2 separate regions of the Homo sapiens genome follow, and region 2 is reported to be linked to region 1. The links are microRNA targets in miRTarBase. Many come from high-throughput screens and were not tested one by one. Region 1 holds a microRNA gene; the other region holds the end of a gene's coding sequence.

Region 1 (5,364 bases):
CTCTTTCCCTCTTTGAGTTTTAAAAAATAAATGTACAATTCCAGAGCTTTGGGTAAAAAATATATACACCCTCATAGCAGGAGCAGCAGCTGCTTTTGCTACGGCTGTTGCTGTCTCTTCAAAAGGGAAAGAGGTGGTGCCAGAAAGAAGGGTGAGTCTGTGCCAGGAAACCTCACCCAGTAGCTGCCAGGAGCCCCTGCACCCCTCAGGCCTTGAGGCTGGTGATGGGAGAGGGAGGGGAGTAAAGGTAATAAAGGCCTTGCCAGAGTCCAGTGGCGCCTTTACAGTCTCTGCCATCCCCCTCCCCCACTTTGGGGCTGCCTGCCCCAGGTATAGGGATCCACCCCACCCCAGCTCTATGGGGAGGACAAAGGGAGAGTCAAAGAGAGAGGGACAGAGACCATGTTGTTGGTGTCAGACACATGAGCCAGAAGGGGGATGTCAACTCCCTCCTTAGCAGTTAGATATCCCAAAAAGCAGGAGTGTGGGCAGCAGACAACCCTAGCTCCTGATACTGCTCTACCCGAGCCCACTGCAAGGCAGGGGGAGGGTCCTCTAGGCAGCTGAGGCCTGTGTTTCCCTGAGCATCTTTTACCCTCTCATCAGAGCCCATCCCTGGACCTTCCAGAGGCCTGAGTGGGGGACTTGCAAGGGCTGATGGGTAACCCCTCCCACCTGCTGCTACTCCCTGCCCCAAAAAGCAGCTTGGCTCACAAGCCTGGGCATGCAGGGCAGCACGAGGAGCTGAGCAGGGAGTGTGGGGGTGGAGAAAGCACCCCGCACCATCCAGGGGCAGAGTAGACAAGGGTAGCACCAAACAGAAGGACCCCTCCCCAGCACACACAACATCCACCCTCAATTACCAGATGCACTCCTGCTCCCTAAAAGAAGACACACACACACACACACACACACACACACACACACACACACACACACACACACACACGGCAACATAATATTCCTGGGGGTCCCAGCCCTGACCAGGAAGAAGCTGGACAGGTGGTGGAGAAGAAGGCTGCCAATCCCTCCCACAATCCCACTCTGCAAGACAGAAGGGTGAGCAGCATTCTTTCCTGCTGCAAGAGGAAGTTGGAAGCTCCATCCCCAGAACAGATCTCGATGGGAGGACATAGAGGAAGGAGCTTTCTATCCCCTTTCTCAGAGGGGACAGGAACCAGCAAAGTGTAGTTTTGGCTTGAAGGAGCAATGGGGAGGGGACTTCAGCAGGATGAACAGACTTATGGGTCCAGGGGTAAATCCATCGACCTCTTTCCCGTGGAGCAGGAAGTTGCTCCACGGGAAAGATGTCAGATGTTGGTTGAGACATCGTGCAAAGTGCTTGAGTGCCAGGTGCCCAAGGATCTGGCGGGTCTGACTGGAGCCTCCACTCTCACTGACTGTTTGCCTCCAGCTTGTAGGAGAGCTCGAAGAGGAGGTTCTGGTTGTCGATGACCTGAAACTGGCGCACATAGGCCTTGGTCTGCAGGTGATTGGGGGATGCCTCCATGTCCAGGCCTAGTGGGTAAAGAGGGAGAGGCAGTCAGGTTCCCAGCTTCCCTTCTTCCTCTACACACACACCGGGCAGAAGATCAGGCTGTGGACTGAGACAGATGTTGGGCAGGAAGGCCTCTGCAGAGGCAAGGAGAGAATGGGGAACCAGCAAGTGTATGGAAATACACATCTGGACAGGGAGTTCTCCCCTGAACCCTCCCGTTCAGTCAAAGCTCTATCTGTACTGCTCTCAGTACCCTGGGTACTCACAAAGGGGCCGGCTCCGGTATTTGCGGATTGTCCTCACTTTTTCGGCCACTGAATGCTGGGAGATGACAAGGAATGAGCCTTGAAAGGGGCACAGAAAGAGGCTCCCCCTCTTATGCTCCCCCTCCGCCATTCTCCCACTCTGCTTTACTCCCTCCAGTCTCCAATTCTGGAGGGTCTCTGAAGGACCAAAGGAGTGGGTGTAACAGAGTGCCATGTGAGGGGGAGGTGAAGTTGCCCCCAAGCTGCCTGTCAGCTCTGCCACCTGTGGGTGGGTTGCCACAGTGATGCCACCAGGGAGACAGTCAAGAGTCTGTTAGGCAAGCTGGGCACTTGGAGGAAGGCTGCTATTTTTGGGAGGTGATGAGAGAGGGAGAGGATGCAAGCCCCCCACTTGTGGGACTAGGGGTTTGCAGTGCCACTCACTCACCAGCTTCTCGATGTTCACCAAACCATCTACAAGGGTCTTACTCCCTTCGTGCAGGAAAGTCAGGTCTAGGGGATGTGGAGAGAATCCAATGTGAGGAAAGGATAAGAGAGGAGTTCGAAAGGGGCCACTGCACCCGAGGACCCCGCTCTTCCCCAGAACCCACTCCGTCTGTGGTGGGGGGCTCCTCTCCAGGTGGGTACTCAGGGCTGAGTCGAGAGGGAGCTGGAAGTCAGAAGCAGGGCATAGGAGAAGGGAAGCATGGGTGGAAGCGGCACAGCTTGGGAGTAACTCTCTCACCTTTGAGGATCAGAGGCACGAAGGGAATCACAGGGGGCTTCATTTTGGAGATCACTTCTCGGTAGCTTTTGTGGTTCCTGCAGGGGTCCTAGTATTCCACAGGAGAGAGATCAAGGGACAGACTGGCCAATGCATCCCAAAGATGTCCTCAGCTTCCTCCCTCACCCCCTGCCTTGTATACATTCCTGATCAGATAGGGGTGCTGGGGGCTTTCTAATGGTGTGGTGGGGAGGGACCTGACTACTCCCCCTTTCCTTCAAGAAAAACAGGGGCGCAATCCTTCCAACCTCACCCTCCAGCATGGTAAGGAGGGTGGGGGGTCCCATACACTAAACACCTTGAAAGGAAAGCTTGAGGAAGGGGGTTTATGGGAACAGAGGGTTTCTGGGCTCTCAGTCCAAGAGCAGAAGAAAGAGCCAAACCCACTCACCGTCAGGTTCTCAAATTTGCGAAACAAGTTCTTGAATTTCCCTGGCAGCTTCTGCAGAGTTTGAAGGAAGGAGAAGGGATATCAGAGTGGAGCTCCTTGGGTTACATGGGAGCCTCGGATTAATTCTCCCTGTTGGAGGGCAAAAGGGCCTGCATGGCTTGTAGGGGGCTGGGAAGCTGGTGGGTGGGGAAATGAAGTCAGGCCTTGGCTAAGTCTAGAGGCTTGAAACAGCCCAGAGGAATTCATTATTCTGGGGAAGGCCAGGTCTGTCTTATGCAGGTGCTTTGTATAAAGATGCCCCCACTGAGTGTGGATGAAAATCAGCCCAACTCCCACAGCCAAGTCTGCGACCTGACCTGGCCAAGGGCTGCCTGCCGTGACTCAGGCGGGATCCGGGCTTTTCACTAATTTGCACAAAGACAGGGTCCATTAGCCAAGCTGTGCGCCCTGGGGTTGCGTATGCCAGAAGAGGGCGCCTCCCTCCAACTGGCGCAAAGACTCCCTCCAGGCCGGCGGCCGTCCCGGGAGGACGCACTTCGGGGAGCCCGGGATGCCCAGATTCCCAGGTAGGAACGGGAGGGGTCTCATCACCTCCCAGGTGAGTCGAAGGCGGCTGACAGCGGCGTTGTCCAGCCCCATGACCACGGCGTAGAAAGACAGCAGGTCCTGGTTCTGCTTGCAGCTGCGGGGGTGGGAGGCGGGGTCAGGGGCGGGCGGCGGCGCGGGCCTCCGGCCTCCGGCCCCCCATCCCGCCGACGGCCGCACTCACAGGGCCGCGATCTTGATGAACTTCTTGAGCAGCTGCGCGCGCTTGCCCGGGGCCTCGCAGAGCAGCACTTCGGTGGCCACCCAGTGCGTGACCTCGCTGCAGCGCTGCAGCAGCAGCTCCAAGTTGGCCGTCTCCCGGCGGCCGCGCTCCCCGTGGAACACGTAGTCCACGAACTCCAGCTGCACCCACGGCAGCGGAGGGGCGGCCAGGGCGCCAGGGGGTGAGGGGAGTGGGTGGGAAGATGGCAGTGCAAGGCGATGAGGAGCGAAAGGCAGGAGGGCGGGGGCGGAAGGGGTGGAAAATAGAAAAATAGAAAGGACAGGAGGCGGCAAAGATGCGGAAAAAGAAAACAACCAGCATTAATAATATTTCACCAGCTACTGAGCACTTACTAGGTGCCAGGCATTCGCTCACGGCTGACATCCTCAAGACAACCATCTGCTAGGCATTATTGTCTCTGCCTTATTTTATTTCTTTAATAGTGAATATTTTAAAAATAGAAATCCTGGGTCAGGTTCTGTGTAAACAGCACTTGGGCCCTGAGCCACTGTGCTCTGGGGTCTCTCTCTTTGCGATTTTTTTCAGATGGGGGAACAAAGGTTACGGCCATGCGTTGCCCAAGGGCTTGCTGCAAGTGAGCCTTGGAACCAGGACGTTGTGCTGCGAACACCGTCTCCCAATGGCACATTTCTCCCTCCAGCCCCCCAGCATAGCACCAGCCTCGGTCCCCACCTCATGCACACATCGGAACAGCTCCCAGTGGAAGGCAGTTAGGTGGTTGGCAACGTCCTCAGGCTCCACTCGGTGGATCTCTGTGTCTCCAGGGGAGACCTGGATCTCCTCGGGGAGGGGCACCTGGTGGCAGGCAGGGGCATAGGGGCTGGGCTCCTGGTGGCAGGGTGAGGGATTGCTCACAGCCCTCCTCAGCCCTCCATTCCAGTCAAGGCCTTGGGAAGTTCTTACCAGAGCCTCATAGCTGTCCCGAGTACAGGCAAACAGGTGGCTGTTGATGCCCAGTGCGGTGAAAACACAGTCCTCAGTGGGCTGGAGAAGGACCTTCTCTGCAGGAGAAAGAGCTGCTCATCCTCGGCCCCTGCCGCCTGCACCCTCACACATCCCACACTGACACTGTCCTATCCAAAAACTCCTCACCCCACACTGACACATTCTAGACTAATGGAACTCATCTTATCACTAGTTTATGCCATATTTATCTGGAATTTGTCAAATGATTATTTCTTTTGCATTTATAACTTTTTTTCTACTCCCTTTCTTTCACAGCTTTTCTCTTACTCTGTTGTCCTTGTGACACTGGGAAGGCTGAAATTTTTTCCTACTGTAGAGGAAAACAAAGCTTCAGTGACATTGCTGGCTTTCTGCCTTCCCACTCATCCTGTGTCTTTAGCCTGTGAAATGTGGCATCCTTACATACACAGGGAGGTTAAAGGATCAGAATACAATCCATAGGTGAGTGAGGGGCAGCACTCAGATCAGAACCTGAGTCCTAGACCAGTGCCTCCCAAACTTTTTTTTTTTTTTTGAGACGGAGTTTCGCTCTTGTTGCCCAGACTGGAGCACAGTGTCTTGATCTCGGCACTGCAACCTCCGCCTCCGCGGTTCAAGTGATTCTCCTGCCTCAGCCTCCCAAGTAGCTGGGATTACAGGTGCACACCACCA
Region 2 (5,364 bases), not on the chromosome of region 1:
ACCCTCCCAGCCACCACTCCCCCATGTCCCACCAAGAAGGAATGGGAAGGGCCAGCCACCTCGTACATGACATGCAGCGCCTACCAGAAGGTCCAGGACTCGGAGATCAGCTTCCCCGCGGGCGTGGAGGTGCAGGTGCTGGAGAAGCAGGAGAGCGGGTGGTGGTATGTGAGGTTTGGGGAGCTGGAGGGCTGGGCCCCTTCCCACTATTTGGTGCTGGATGAGAACGAGCAACCTGACCCCTCTGGCAAAGAGCTGGACACAGTGCCCGCCAAGGGCAGGCAGAACGAAGGCAAATCAGACAGCCTGGAGAAGATCGAGAGGCGCGTCCAAGCACTGAACACCGTCAACCAGAGCAAGAAGGCCACGCCCCCCATCCCCTCCAAACCTCCCGGGGGCTTCGGCAAGACCTCAGGCACTCCAGCGGTGAAGATGAGGAACGGAGTGCGGCAGGTGGCGGTCAGGCCCCAGTCGGTGTTTGTGTCCCCGCCACCCAAGGACAACAACCTGTCCTGCGCCCTGCGGAGGAATGAGTCACTCACGGCCACTGATGGCCTCCGAGGCGTCCGACGGAACTCCTCCTTTAGCACTGCTCGCTCCGCTGCCGCCGAGGCCAAGGGCCGCCTGGCCGAACGGGCTGCCAGCCAGGGTTCAGACTCACCCCTACTGCCCGCCCAGCGCAACAGCATACCCGTGTCCCCTGTGCGCCCCAAGCCCATCGAGAAGTCTCAGTTCATCCACAATAACCTCAAAGATGTGTACGTCTCTATCGCAGACTACGAGGGGGATGAGGAGACAGCAGGCTTCCAGGAGGGGGTGTCCATGGAGGTTCTGGAGAGGAACCCTAATGGCTGGTGGTACTGCCAGATCCTGGATGGTGTGAAGCCCTTCAAAGGCTGGGTGCCTTCCAACTACCTTGAGAAAAAGAACTAGCAGAGGGCCTGGGCTCTTCCAGCCTCAGTGTGCCTCTCTGGCCGCCCACTGGATGAGCGGTGAGACGAACAAAAGGGAAAGGAAAAAATGGGGGTGGGGGGTGGGGGGTGGACAACATTCAACACTGCAGAATGGGTGACCTCAAAGATGCCCCCTGTCCAAGCCATCCCACAGCTGGAAGGTAGGGGATGGGGGTGCCCACACTGAGTGAGGAAGGGAATGGACCAGGGAGTCCCAGGCCTGGGACCCAGAGCCAAGAAAGCTGAGATATCCTGTGCACCATAGGGACTTCACCAATGGATTACATGCCATCTGGGACAGGCCATGTGGGAGACCCCAGTTGTGCCTTTGCTACAGATCTGGAAAAGACAAGGTCATGGGGGCCTCCAGTGTCCTGCCCCTGCTTGGCCCAGTTTTGATTGCTGGCATCTTGCCACCCCAGGTATCCCTGGTATTGTCCTAAGCTGTATTTGTGAATTGTGCTGGTTTCCTGGGCATTGCCACGCCTACCACAGGTGGGTACATTAGAAGCCACCACTGGCTTTCAGGCTTGGGGGTGTCTTCTGAGCTCAAGCCTGCTTCTGGGCCAGGCCATTGTCACTGTTAGTTGAAGAAAAAGCAGTTCCCAGGTGCCAGCAAAGACCATCTTTCATAACTGTCACTGTCTTGGCCTTGAGAAGAGAGCCCGCTCTCCGTGGGGCACCCCATGGAGGACACAGTACCAGAGTTTACAGAGAGGGTGGGCGAAGCCACCGGTCTCTTCCTAATCTGCACAGACTATTTTGGGTATTTCTGGGCGGGCAGTTCCTTTGCATGTTTCGGGAGAGGTTTGTTGATTTGGGGCTTATATGTCAGGCCTTTGGTTTGCGTCTTATTTTAGGGGTTGTTTGGGGGCCTGGGTGGTCGGCCTCACATGGGAAGGGGATGGGTAGTGGATGGGGTTTCTGTTGTATCTTGTGGGCGGGTGATTTTGCTTTTGTTTTTGTTTCACATTCTTCCCCCTCCACAAGCCAAAGTCGTTTCATTTGGTTTCCACTGTGTGGACTGTGCTGGAGCTTGGCGCCTGCCAGAAAAATTTGGGGCTAGGCAAGCCCCAGGTTGCAGACATGGTGAAGCAGAGAAACTGTTCTTCTGGTTCCTGCACAACCTCAGAGGGGCAAAAACCCTCCCCAGGAAGGAGGAGGGTGTTCAGGAGCCAGACTTTTGGAGAGAAGGCAGCTCCCAGCCTGCTGGGTGACCGCCATTCTGCGTGTGTTCCCCAGCTGGGCAGGGCTGGAAGCCTTACGTATGAAGCATGGAGAAGCAGCCATTGTCCCCACTATGGGCAGAGGGGGGACCCGGCTGGCCCCTTGGGTCAGACTGGAGCCAACACCGCCAGCCACCCCCTCTGGCCTGCTGGCAATGCCACAGGTGCCCAAGAAGATGGAGGATCCCTGTGCCAGGAGCCAACCTGGTCTTCCCGAGGGTCAGTGCCCCAGTGAAGACAGAAGCGAGAGAATAAAGTTCCCTGTAGGTCCTCTGTCACCTTTGGGTTGTGTTTTTCAATTGTTGACATTTCAGAGGGGACCCTCCAGAAGCCCAGCCGGCTTCCCCCAAGGACTCCCCCTTCGCTGGGAGTGGATTTCCACACGTGCCTTTGATTTCGGACAGATTGGGCCTCACAGCCACCGATTCAGCTGCCAGGGTCCCTGGACTGGGGGTTGGTGTTTTCTATAGAGGAGGAAAGGCCCTCCCTCACCCTGCTCCCCACCCAGGCAGGGCAGCATGGGACCCAGTGTCTCAGTGCCTTCAAAACCCACCCCCACCCCTACCCTACCCCACCACACCCCATCCCAGAGGCCTTGCCTGGGCAACCCTAAGCCCCTGTCCCTCGCCATACACTGATGCCTGGCAGCTAGAGCAAATGGCTCGTGTTCTTTGTCGAAGGCCTGTGGTGAGATTGTTTTGTTTCCTTTTGTTTTGTGAGTTTGTTTAAAATTGAAATTAGTTATTTTCTTCTGCTGGACAGTATTAAATAGAGCAGGATGTTGAGTTAATCTGCTAGATTGCAGTACTAATGGTAGTGGTTTAGTGTCTTCATGTTAATATTATTTGTACTTATTTGAACAATAATGATAAAGAAGTGGTTCATTATTTTTTAATTAATGCACTTTAAATAAGGTAGAATGGAAAAAACCCAGAGAGCAAAGTGCATTACTTAAAGATGCAGTATATACTTTTCTCATTTTTAAACAGCACATATTTATTAAGAGAAAAAAAGTAATTTATGACTATTTAAAATAAAATTTAAAAGTAGAGTGACTGTCAGGTAAAGAACCTTCAATGTAGCTATCTTCCAGGGGGAGGGCCCTGCAGCCTCGCTCCTCAGATGTCTGCACTGAGCCAGTTCAGTCACTAGTGCGCCAGCCAGGCCAGGAGGGAGTGCAGAGCATGTCTGCCAAGCACAGAGCATCTCAGTTGGACTGGACCACAGTGCTCCCGAGAGCCTGCCTTTCCTGCCCTTCCCCACCACCTGCACTGCCCCCCACATTCTCCCAGCCCCCCCCAAGGACCCCCTCTCCTTGACCCCCAGTGCTGTAAGTAATAGAGTCATTAAAATGCAGGACTGAAAGAGACCTCAGAGGTCTCTATCCCATCCCTTCCTGTTACTGCGGCCCAAGGACAGGAAACAACTTTTCCAAAATCCCACAGCTAGTTAATGACAGATCTCCCCACTACATTAATCCCGTGCTCCTCCTCACTGCCATTATAGTTTATTGTGTGGTCATGTTTACATTGTGACATCCAGCCCCAAGGATGGCTGGGAGTTGCTCAGGCATCCAGGAAAAGTGGGGAATGCTGCCATCTGGTGACAGCATGTAGATTTGGGCAGTGAACAGGGATTGCCATGCCCCAGTCTTCGCACCTCGCCCCCTCACCCCCTAACTCACAGCACAAACCCTGCAAACCCAAAGAGAATATTAATACTTGAAGCAAGAAGGGTGCATGCCAGTCCTTCTCCGACATGGCCAGGGGGTACCAGGCCTTGTGCGCCTGGCCTCCTAGCCCTAGCCAGGGCGAGAGGGCCTTTCCCTTGAGCTACTGAGCTGCTTTGTGATGCTGAAGGATACTGCCGGCAGCAGGCAGAGGAGGGAGGGGGCCTAGGGCTCTGACCCATCTGGAGGAAAACCAGATCGGACTAAAAAAGGAAAAAGAAAAACAAAATCTCCGCAGTGTCCAAACCTAGTTTCCCATGAGTTGCGACTGAAAATGTGAAACGACACTGTATTGCTGTATACTGCAACTTTAACCATAATGAGCCCTTCTGAGGTCATTATTGAGGTTCATATAATGCCCGAAGATGCAGCATTTGGTGCTTTGTTTTCCTTTCCGTTTCAAGACCTTTTTCTTTTATTGCAAGGGGAAAAAAATGTCATCTCCCCCCACCTCATCCCTCTTTGTGACAGCAGACCTGGCTGTGTTGCCCCTCTCCTCCTCACTATTCTCACCAGGCCATGGGACTTTGGGGGCAGTGAGAGAGAGCTGGAAAGGGGCAACCCTGAGCAGCAGGTGTGCCCCATGCCCTGTGGGTTTCCCCTATGTCCAATGACTGTAGACGGGCTGTCTTGCCAGGCCTCAGCCCCGTCTACCCTAAGCCTGGCCCCAAAGGTTTCTCTTTCTTCCTCCTTGATTTTCCATCTTGACGAAGGCATTATATAGAATCATTTTAATCACTTTCAGATGTTAGAGCAGCGTATTTTACAGGCATTTATATCCATTGCTTTCCTCAGCAAGGCATGTTACTACTTTTATCATCTAAGGAAAAAAGACAAGGGAATTCCAGTCAGGCATTATTTTCCTATTACTAGTGTTTGCAGAATAGGTGTAGGACTATTTAAGTTTAGACCTTGGTTTGGTAGTTCTTGTTTTTAATAAGGGGAAAAAGATAAAATAACCCCTATTTTTCCTGTTATTGTATTTAACTAATATATTATTTCTTTAAGGTTACTCACTTCCCCTACCCCTCCAAATACCTTGCATTCTCAATCAAAAATGGAAACAATCTGAGAGACAGGAAAAGTGCAATATTACCAAGATGGATGCCAGGGCTCATTGGGGACAATGGAGGGAATACCAGTGGCGCTCAGAGAGCAAGAGGCAGGGAGCGGGGTGCTGAAGGAATCCTAGCTGTGGAACAGGTGGGTGGGTTGGTGGAGTTTGATCTTGTGGCGTTCTCCTCTCCCCCTTCTTTGGGAAGATGATAGGGGTCCCTGCCAGATCCACCCAGAAGAAAGGGATTCAGGCATGGGGCCCTTGACCTCTAGGCCCCAGTCCCTGGAGCAGAGGCAGGCCCTCGGGAGCTGTTCCTTGTTTTGATTTCTGTTGTGGTGCAGCCAGCTGCTCAGAGAGACCTGGCCTAAAAATGACTCCCAGCAGCCCTCTCTCACCCCA

The links. The annotated mature microRNA hsa-miR-6867-5p reads UGUGUGUGUAGAGGAAGAAGGGA and lies in region 1 at 1,558-1,580, opposite strand. An mRNA with a match to its seed (bases 2 to 7 or 8) in the 3' UTR can be bound and repressed. Matches are read on the target gene's strand: a 7mer-m8 pairs with bases 2 to 8, a 7mer-A1 pairs with bases 2 to 7 and ends in A, and an 8mer does both.
Region 2: miRTarBase lists SH3PXD2A as a target of hsa-miR-6867-5p. The part of its 3' UTR that is shown has no 7-base or 8-base seed match.

What each region holds. Positions count from the first base shown.
Region 1 is chr17:40,189,818-40,195,181 of GRCh38, reverse strand. It overlaps MIR6867 (microRNA 6867), which reads right to left and starts at 1,585; the gene lies at 1,519-1,585. RAPGEFL1 (Rap guanine nucleotide exchange factor like 1) reads right to left here. Exons shown (of 15, transcript NM_016339.6): 7 at 4,651-4,748; 8 at 4,420-4,542; 9 at 3,688-3,866; 10 at 3,510-3,600; 11 at 2,919-2,969; 12 at 2,489-2,576; 13 at 2,192-2,256; 14 at 1,765-1,819; 15 at 1-1,518. The coding sequence ends at 1,394. RefSeq lists enhancers at 565-614, 239-739, 3,441-3,520 and a silencer at 3,641-3,700.
Region 2 is chr10:103,597,385-103,602,748 of GRCh38, reverse strand. SH3PXD2A (SH3 and PX domains 2A) reads left to right here. Exons shown (of 15, transcript NM_001394015.1): 15 at 1-5,364. The coding sequence ends at 933. Among named protein-coding and RNA genes, the nearest start is that of NEURL1-AS1, 83 kb to the right of the region's middle. RefSeq lists an enhancer at 3,603-3,897.